Homo sapiens: one gene and its partner. The protein of the gene in region 1 purifies or fractionates together with the protein of each later gene. This does not show direct contact. Each region holds a gene or a part of one and is shown in the gene's direction. Other genes may lie near its edges.

Evidence for each region.
Region 2: the proteins of KEL (region 1) and FLVCR1 purify together in Homo sapiens (affinity purification with mass spectrometry; one large-scale study listed by BioGRID and IntAct). This does not show direct contact.

What each region holds. Positions count from the first base shown.
Region 1 is NC_000007.14:142,955,746-142,959,566, reverse strand, and holds part of KEL (kell blood group glycoprotein), read left to right. Parts: intron 1-1,138; coding exon 1,139-1,263; intron 1,264-1,593; coding exon 1,594-1,740; intron 1,741-3,821. UniProt on the Homo sapiens protein: Zinc endopeptidase with endothelin-3-converting enzyme activity. Cleaves EDN1, EDN2 and EDN3, with a marked preference for EDN3.
Region 2 is NC_000001.11:212,892,618-212,896,438, forward strand, and holds part of FLVCR1 (choline/ethanolamine transporter FLVCR1), read left to right. Parts: intron 1-2,368; coding exon 2,369-2,436; intron 2,437-2,598; coding exon 2,599-2,673; 3' UTR 2,674-3,821.

The sequences.
Region 1 (3,821 bases):
TCTCTAGTTCCCTGAATTTGTCTAATTTCTTCAATCATTTCTTTTGTCTTTCATTTCTCTCTTTTCTCCTTTGCCCATATCCCACTTATTGCTACCTTTCTCCTTTCTTCCCTGTCTTTTCCTTCTTGGTTTCTTCCCCACATTTCTTTTATTTTCCATATTGTCTTCTTCTCCTCATTCTCTTTCCCTGCTTTCATCATTTCATCAAGTTGATCCATTCCAAATTGGGCAGTCCTCTCATCTTTCTTATTTTCCTCATCTCTATTCCTCCCCCTCCTTCCATATTCTGTGGGAGTCTTTCTTTCCTGTAAGCTCCCTGTCTCCCACCCTCCCTCTTTGCCTCTATACCAGTTGCCACTCCTTTAATTCTCCTGCCGACAAAAAGAGTCAAACTCTGTAAAATATTTGAAAAGATTTATTTTGAGCCAAATATGAGTGACCATGGCCCATGATACAGTCCTCAGGAGATCCTGAGAACATGTGCCCAAGGTGGCTGGGGCACAGCTTGGTTTTATACATTTTAGAGAGTCATGAGACATCAATCAAATACATTTAAGAAATACATTGGTTTGGTCCAGAAAGGTGGAACAACTCAAAGGGGTGGGGGTGGCTTCCAGGGTACAGGTGAATTTAAACATTTCCGGATTGACAGTTGCTTGAGTTTGTCTAAAGATCTGGGATAGATAGAAAGGGAATGTTCAGGGTAAGATAAAGATTGCGGAGACCGAAGTTCTTTTGAAGTCTTATAGTGGCTGCCCTTAGAGACAATAGGTGACAAATGTTTCCTATTCAGATCTTAGTTAATCAAAAGATCTAGCTATGTTAATGAGATATGTTAATAGCTAATAGAGATGCTTTACAGATGCAAATTTTCCTCCACAAAGAACAGCTTTGCAGGGCCATTTCAAAATGTGGCAAAGAAACATGTTTTGGGGTAAAATATTTTTGTTTTCTTCTTTGTCTCGTAATGTTATGCCAGAATCAGGTTAGAAAGTAAATCATGTTACATGGGTTAAATAAAACCCATCTGATGAGAACTTATGATATAGGGCATGACTCCCCAGACCCCTTTGATAGGAATTTGGGGCAAGATAAAAAAAATCAGAGTTTAGTCCTCACTCCCATGCTTCCTTTCTAGAGGTCCAGAATTCCTGGCACCCAGGCTCTGGGGAGGAGAAAGCCTTCCAGTTCTACAACTCCTGCATGGATACACTTGCCATTGAAGCTGCAGGGACTGGTCCCCTCAGACAAGTTATTGAGGAGGTGAGAAAAGTTGGGATATTAACTTTTCTGGATACATAACATATGGGACCAATGCATGCTTAGGGCTGCCATTTTTTTTTCTAGAGGGTGGGTCTTCTTCCTAGGGCCCCCCAATTTCTAGGAGGGAGATGGAGATGGAAATGGTTATGCCCTATGAAAGTATCAGGACCTTGGGAGAAGGCAGATAAAAAAGGATAGATGTGGCTTCCTAGAGGAATCGAAGGGCGCAGGGCAGAGGTCAGGCAGTAGCAGCTGTGTAAGAGCCGATCCAGACAATGGGGGATGGGCTCCACGGATCCTTATGCTCAGCCCCCTCTCTCTCCTTTAAAGCTTGGAGGCTGGCGCATCTCTGGTAAATGGACTTCCTTAAACTTTAACCGAACGCTGAGACTTCTGATGAGTCAGTATGGCCATTTCCCTTTCTTCAGAGCCTACCTAGGACCTCATCCTGCCTCTCCACACACACCAGTCATCCAGGTGAGGGATGCACTGGCGAAGACACAGTTGGACCTGGCCTGCCTCCAACTCTAGCCAATCATCCCTTAGAGGAAGGTTGCAGGTTGGGAAGAGAGGACACCTGTGTGATATAGGAAACAACCCTACCTTAAGGGAAAATTATTGATGTGAAAGTCAGGGACATTAGCTGGGGGTGGGAAATGGAGCAGCAGAGCCAGTGCTGGGAAGACAGAAGTAGGCCTGGTCTTTCTTACTGTTAATCTGGATTAGTCTCAGAGCCCCTTAACCAGTCCTCCTATCTCTAGGATTGCCCTCATTTTATTTACTCTTTATTTTTACTAGAGGGAACTTTTCTAAACCAAGGGCTAACTAACTATGCTACTGTCTGTATTTAAATGCTTGTCAGTGACCCAGTGGCTTGCCAGGTCATCAGAATCTAGTCCCTAATCTTTAGTAAAGCTTTGCAAGCACCTTGTGATCTGACCCCTACACACTTCTCCAGCCTTATCTCCCGTACATTCCTTCTCTCCCTTACCCCCAAGCCATGCTGACTCACTGCTGCTTCCAGGAATATTCCTCAGTTCTTTGCCTATGCTGCTCCCTGTGCCTGCAACCATCCCCCACACTGAACCTGGAAAACTTACATGTTTTTCAAATGTTGGCTTTATTATCTCTTCCAGGAAGTCTTCACCGACACCCTAGTTATGAGTTAGGTGAAGCCCTGCTCTCCCTACTTTCGTTTCCTCATGCTCTCAGCATTTATCACTCTGTGTTGAAGATTGTGAGCCTCTTTAGAACAGGACCATGCTTTATTCACCTTTGTTTCTCAGGACCTATCACAGGGCCAGGCAGCTAGAAGTTTTGCCAGGTATTTGTAGTGAGTGAGTAACTAAATAAAAACACTGGAGCTATCACTCTTGTGGTTAAACAATGTAATGCTATCTGCATATTTGGGCCCTACTGTCAAAAGAGCCACAAAATTACCAAAGGATAAGTACAAAAGAAGAATTGATTATCATTATGAGGTGTTCTAAAATTTAGTTTTAAACAGTCTGCTCAGGAGTTTAACTGATGTGGCCTTTAGGGGCCGGTTAAGATCTGGTTAAGGAGAGGCTCAGAGAGGAGAGAATGAGAGAAGGTGAGCTAAGCCAGCCTTGAAACATGGTTAATTCACACAAGTGGAGGTGAAGCTATGGGGCGTTGGAAATGCTGAGCCAGGGGGAGGACCTGGAATGGTGTGATTCCTTCGTGGAGTCAGTGAGGAGGCTGATCTATTTAATTGAGGATTTGGGAGGCAAGGTGGGGTGCAGTGGGAGGTAAAAGTGAGACTGAAGACATAAGGTTGAGCCTGATTATTTCTAAGAAGCCAGGCGAAGGTGAAACATTTGACATAATAGAAAAAAAAAAAAGAGCTACTGAGGCCATCCAACTCTTATGACAATTGTGCATAGAGCAAGTATTTTGATGGTTGTGCGTAGAGTCAGCAGTTTTGAAGGTCAGTCTGGGGGTGTTGAGGAAACTAAATGAGCATTTTTGAGGCCCTGAGATAGAGGTAGAAATGGAAAGGAAGAGCCAGGCACAAGGATTTAGGCAACTTCACCCTAGTGATGATAGTTCATGCTGTTTCTAGAGGATTTGGTGACTGATTGGATATAAAGAAAGAAAGTGGGGGATTACACAGTGATCCCATTGTTTTGATTTAGTGTGAGTGGGAGGAGGGTGATTATCATCAGTGTGAGCCTGGATAGTCTCTTGGGTTAAAAGCAGGTAGGAAGAATGGACTACAGAAAGAGAAGTCCAAAGACTGAGGGCAGAAGGGAGCCAGGGAAGAGAGAGTACTATTGGAGAGATGGGAGCTAGACCAGTATGGTGGGCCACAAAGGAAAGAAAAGGAGCTTCAGGAAGGAGGGGTCAGCTCAGAGAAGAAGGAATGAGAAGACACCCTTGGATACCTAGAGATACTTTCCAAACAGTTATGGCAGTGGACACAGACTGCACAGAGCTTAGGAGGAAGATAAGAAAGTGGAAACAATGGGCATAGATGCTTTTTTGTTCTTTGAACTGTGGACATACAATGTAGCAAAAGGGTCAAGTGAAAGTTT
Region 2 (3,821 bases), on another chromosome or scaffold:
CGAGGAGATCAATGTTGCTTTCATGTCTGGAAACACAGCATCCCTTCTGCAGCCCGTGGATCAAGGAGTAATTTCAACTTTCAAGTCTTATTCTTTAAGAAATACACTTCAAAAGGCTGTAGCTGCCAGAAATAATTATTCCTCTCTTGGATCTGAGCAAAGTAAATTGAGAACTTTCTGGAAAGGATGCACCATCCTAGATGCCATTAAGAACATTCTTGATTCATGGGAGGAGGTCAAACTATCAACATTAACAGGAGTTTGGAGGAAGTTAATTCCCATTCTCATGGATGATTTTGAGGTGTTCAAGACTTCAGTGGAGGAAATAGCTGCAGATGTGGTGGGAATAACAAGAGAACTGGAATTAGAAGTGGAATATGAAGAGGTAACTGAATTGCTGCATCTTATGGTAAAACCTGAAGAAATGAAGGGTTGCTTCTTTTTTTTTGGGGGGGGGTGCCGGAATGTTGCTGTGTTGCCCAGGCTGGAGTGCAGTGGCGTGATCTCGGCTCACAGCAAGCTCTGCCTCCCGGGTTCAGGCCATTCTCCTGCCTCAGCCTCCTGAGTAGCTGGGACTACAGGTGCCCGCCACCACGCCCGGCTAATTTTTTGTATTTTTTGTAGAGACGGGGTTTCACCATGTTAGCCAGGATGGTTTTGATTTCCTGACCTTGTGATCTGCCTGCCTCGGCCTCCCAAAGTGCTGGGATTACAGGTGTCAGCCACTGCGCCTGGCTGGGTTGCTTCTTATGGATAAGCAAAGAAAGTGTTTTCTTGAGTTGGAATCTACTAGTAAAGATGCTGTAAATGTTGAAATGACAACAAAGGATTTAGAATATTATATAAACTTAGCTGATGAAGCAGTGGCAGGGTTTGAGAGGATCAACTCCTGTTTTGAGGAAGTTTTGTGGGTAAAATGTTATCAAACAAGTATTGCACACAGAGAGATCTTTCATGAAAGGAAGAGTTGATTAATACGGCAAACTTCGTCACTGTCTTACTTTAAGAAATTGCCACAGCCGCTCCCACCTTTTAGCAACCACCACCCTGATCTGTCAGCAGCCATCAACATCAAGGCAAGACCCTCCACCAGCAAAAAGATAACTTGCAGAAGGCTTGGATAATCATTAGCATTTTTTAGCAGTAAAGTGTTTTTTGTTTTGTTTTGTTTTTTTGAGATGGAGTTTCGCTCTTGTTGCCCAGGCTGGAGTGGAATGGCGCCATCTGGGCTCACTGCAACCTCTGCCTCCTGGGTTCAAGTGATTCTCCTGCCTCAGCCTCCTGAGTAGCTGGGATTACAGATGCCCACCACCACAACCAGCTAATTTTTGTATTTTAGTAGAGATGGGGGTTTCACTATGTTGGCTAGGCTGGTCTCGAACTCCTGACCTCAAGTGATCCACCCGCCTCGGCCTCTCAAAGTGCTAGGATTACAGGCATGAGCCACTGAGCCTGGCCAGTAAAGTGTTTTTAAATTAAGGCATGTAGATTGATTTTTTTTTTTAGACATAATGCTATTGCAAACTTTAAATAGACTACAGTATAGTATAAACATAACTTTTTATGCACTGGAAAACCAAAAAATATGTGCAGTGGTGCGATCTCTGCTCACTGCAACCTCCACCTCCCAGGTTCAAGTGATTCTTCTGTCTCAGCCTCCCTAGTAGTTGGGACTACAGGTGCGTGCCGCCACGCCTGGCTAATTTTTTGTGTTTTTAGTAGAGATGGAGTTTCACCGTGTTGGCCGGGATGGTCTCGATCTTCTGACCTTGTGATCCACCCACCTCGGCCTCCCAAAGTGCTGGGATTACAGGCATGACCCACCACGCCCAGCAATATTCACTCTTTTGTGGTGATCTGGAGCTGAACCCACAATGTCTCTGAGATATACCTGCATTCCCTTCTGCCTAGAATGCCTTCCTCTCCTCTTGTCTGCTTGACAAGTTATTACTCAGTTTTTTCCAGTATCAAGTATGTCTTCTCTGGAAAGCCTTCTCTAATTTCCTTTGGCTGACATAGACTTTTTTTGCTCCCACTTCCCCACCATACCTTGCAATTATCACACACTGTTATACTTGTTTACATGTCAAAGTTTCCCTAGATTGGAGAGTCCTTTAAGAAAAAGAATTACACTTTTCATTTTTGTATCATTGGTTGCTAGCATTCCCGTATTTGTTCAATAATGAATGACTTATTAATTGTTAACAACTTTAGAGAGGTACTATTATTTTTTAGGCTGTTGGGATGCTATTAAATATCATGACACTACAGTGCATTAAATTTGACAATACCAAGAAAGACTTTGAGCTGCTTTTTAAAAAAATCTTCACATAACAGTTTATAGTAACTTGATGCCCCTCTGTTTCAGCATTAATCAAGTCTGATCTGCGAAGACACAACATAAATATAGGAATTACAAATGTTGATGTTAAAGCTGTAAGTAATATTTTTATGATTATACTGTTGAGAAGTATGTATAGAATAAATGTGAAACCATATTTTTTTATTTAGCTATTTTTCTCCCGAGTCAACTGTTGATCTGTTATAATAGGATATGCCAGATGCTATACATTTTTAATCTTCTGATTGTTTTTATAGATACCAGCTGACAGTCCCACAGACCAAGAACCAAAAACGGTTATGTTGTCCAAGCAGTCAGAATCAGCAATTTGAAGAGAAAGGCAAAGTTACTGTCCTGTAGTAATTGGGGACAATGTGATCATCCTTGGAGAGAGATGTGAGCACCAAGGCTGGGTTTGTATGTGGTGGGGGAATAAACACACTTACTTGAAAATTACCATATGAACTCTAAATGCATAATTATTATTTTGCTTAATTGTTAAATTAAGGGAAATTTTCTTAAAATTCTTCTGTTTACATCATGTTAACACTACTGTTTATCTAATTAGTATCCGGTTTTTAGTCTCATATTGTATCTGAAAGTAAGCTTCTTGACGTTTACTTTTTAAAAGTCGATGTTTTTCTTTTTTGTAGAAAATGGAAGCTTAGAATACTTTTTAAAGTGATAATATGGGGTGTTCAGTCCCCATAAGATATAATAGTTCATGCAGTTTATATATTAAAGTATCCAGTGGAACTAAATGTACAATATATTCCTAATTGGCTGCCTTTTTCACTGTGCTGACCAGCTGTTCAAGCCACTTCAGTTTGAGTACAACATACCAACATGACACTACTCACCCACAAAGGACAGCATTGGGATCAGGCTTTCAGATGACCTCTAAGATTTTTCCCATTTATTGTACTCTTGTTACAAAGTACTTTTTAACACATGCAGTCAATGGCTATAAAAACTATTCTGTGTACAGATTCTACCCAGACTTTGGTCTTAGAATTATGTTCTAATTAAGGAGCCTGGTTACAGGTTCATTCTGTCTTGAGTTCTTTTCTGTGCTGCCTTTCTATCATGGATAAATGCTAACGCTGTATTTTTTCACTCCAACTTGAGATAGAGTAGTTTTGTACCCATTGCCTTTTTTTTCTTTTAAACTCTCTTTTTTTTTTTTTCCTGATGTGTAACTTTCTAGTAAGATAATTTCATCATGTATGTTACTGGCTATTTCATGATTTCATGTATCACATCGTATATTTTGCCTTGAAGATTCCTGAAATAAGGAAATCTATAATAACTTCAGATAGCCTACATGTCCCCATTTAGTGGAGACCTCTTGAATGCTATTTGAATTCTGCAGTATCATTTTTATGACCATTCTCCTTTGAGGAATACTATGCCCAGGTACATGCTCTATCAGTGTGCCGGGAGAGTGGATTCTTTTCTTCACTGCAGAGTCATCACACTG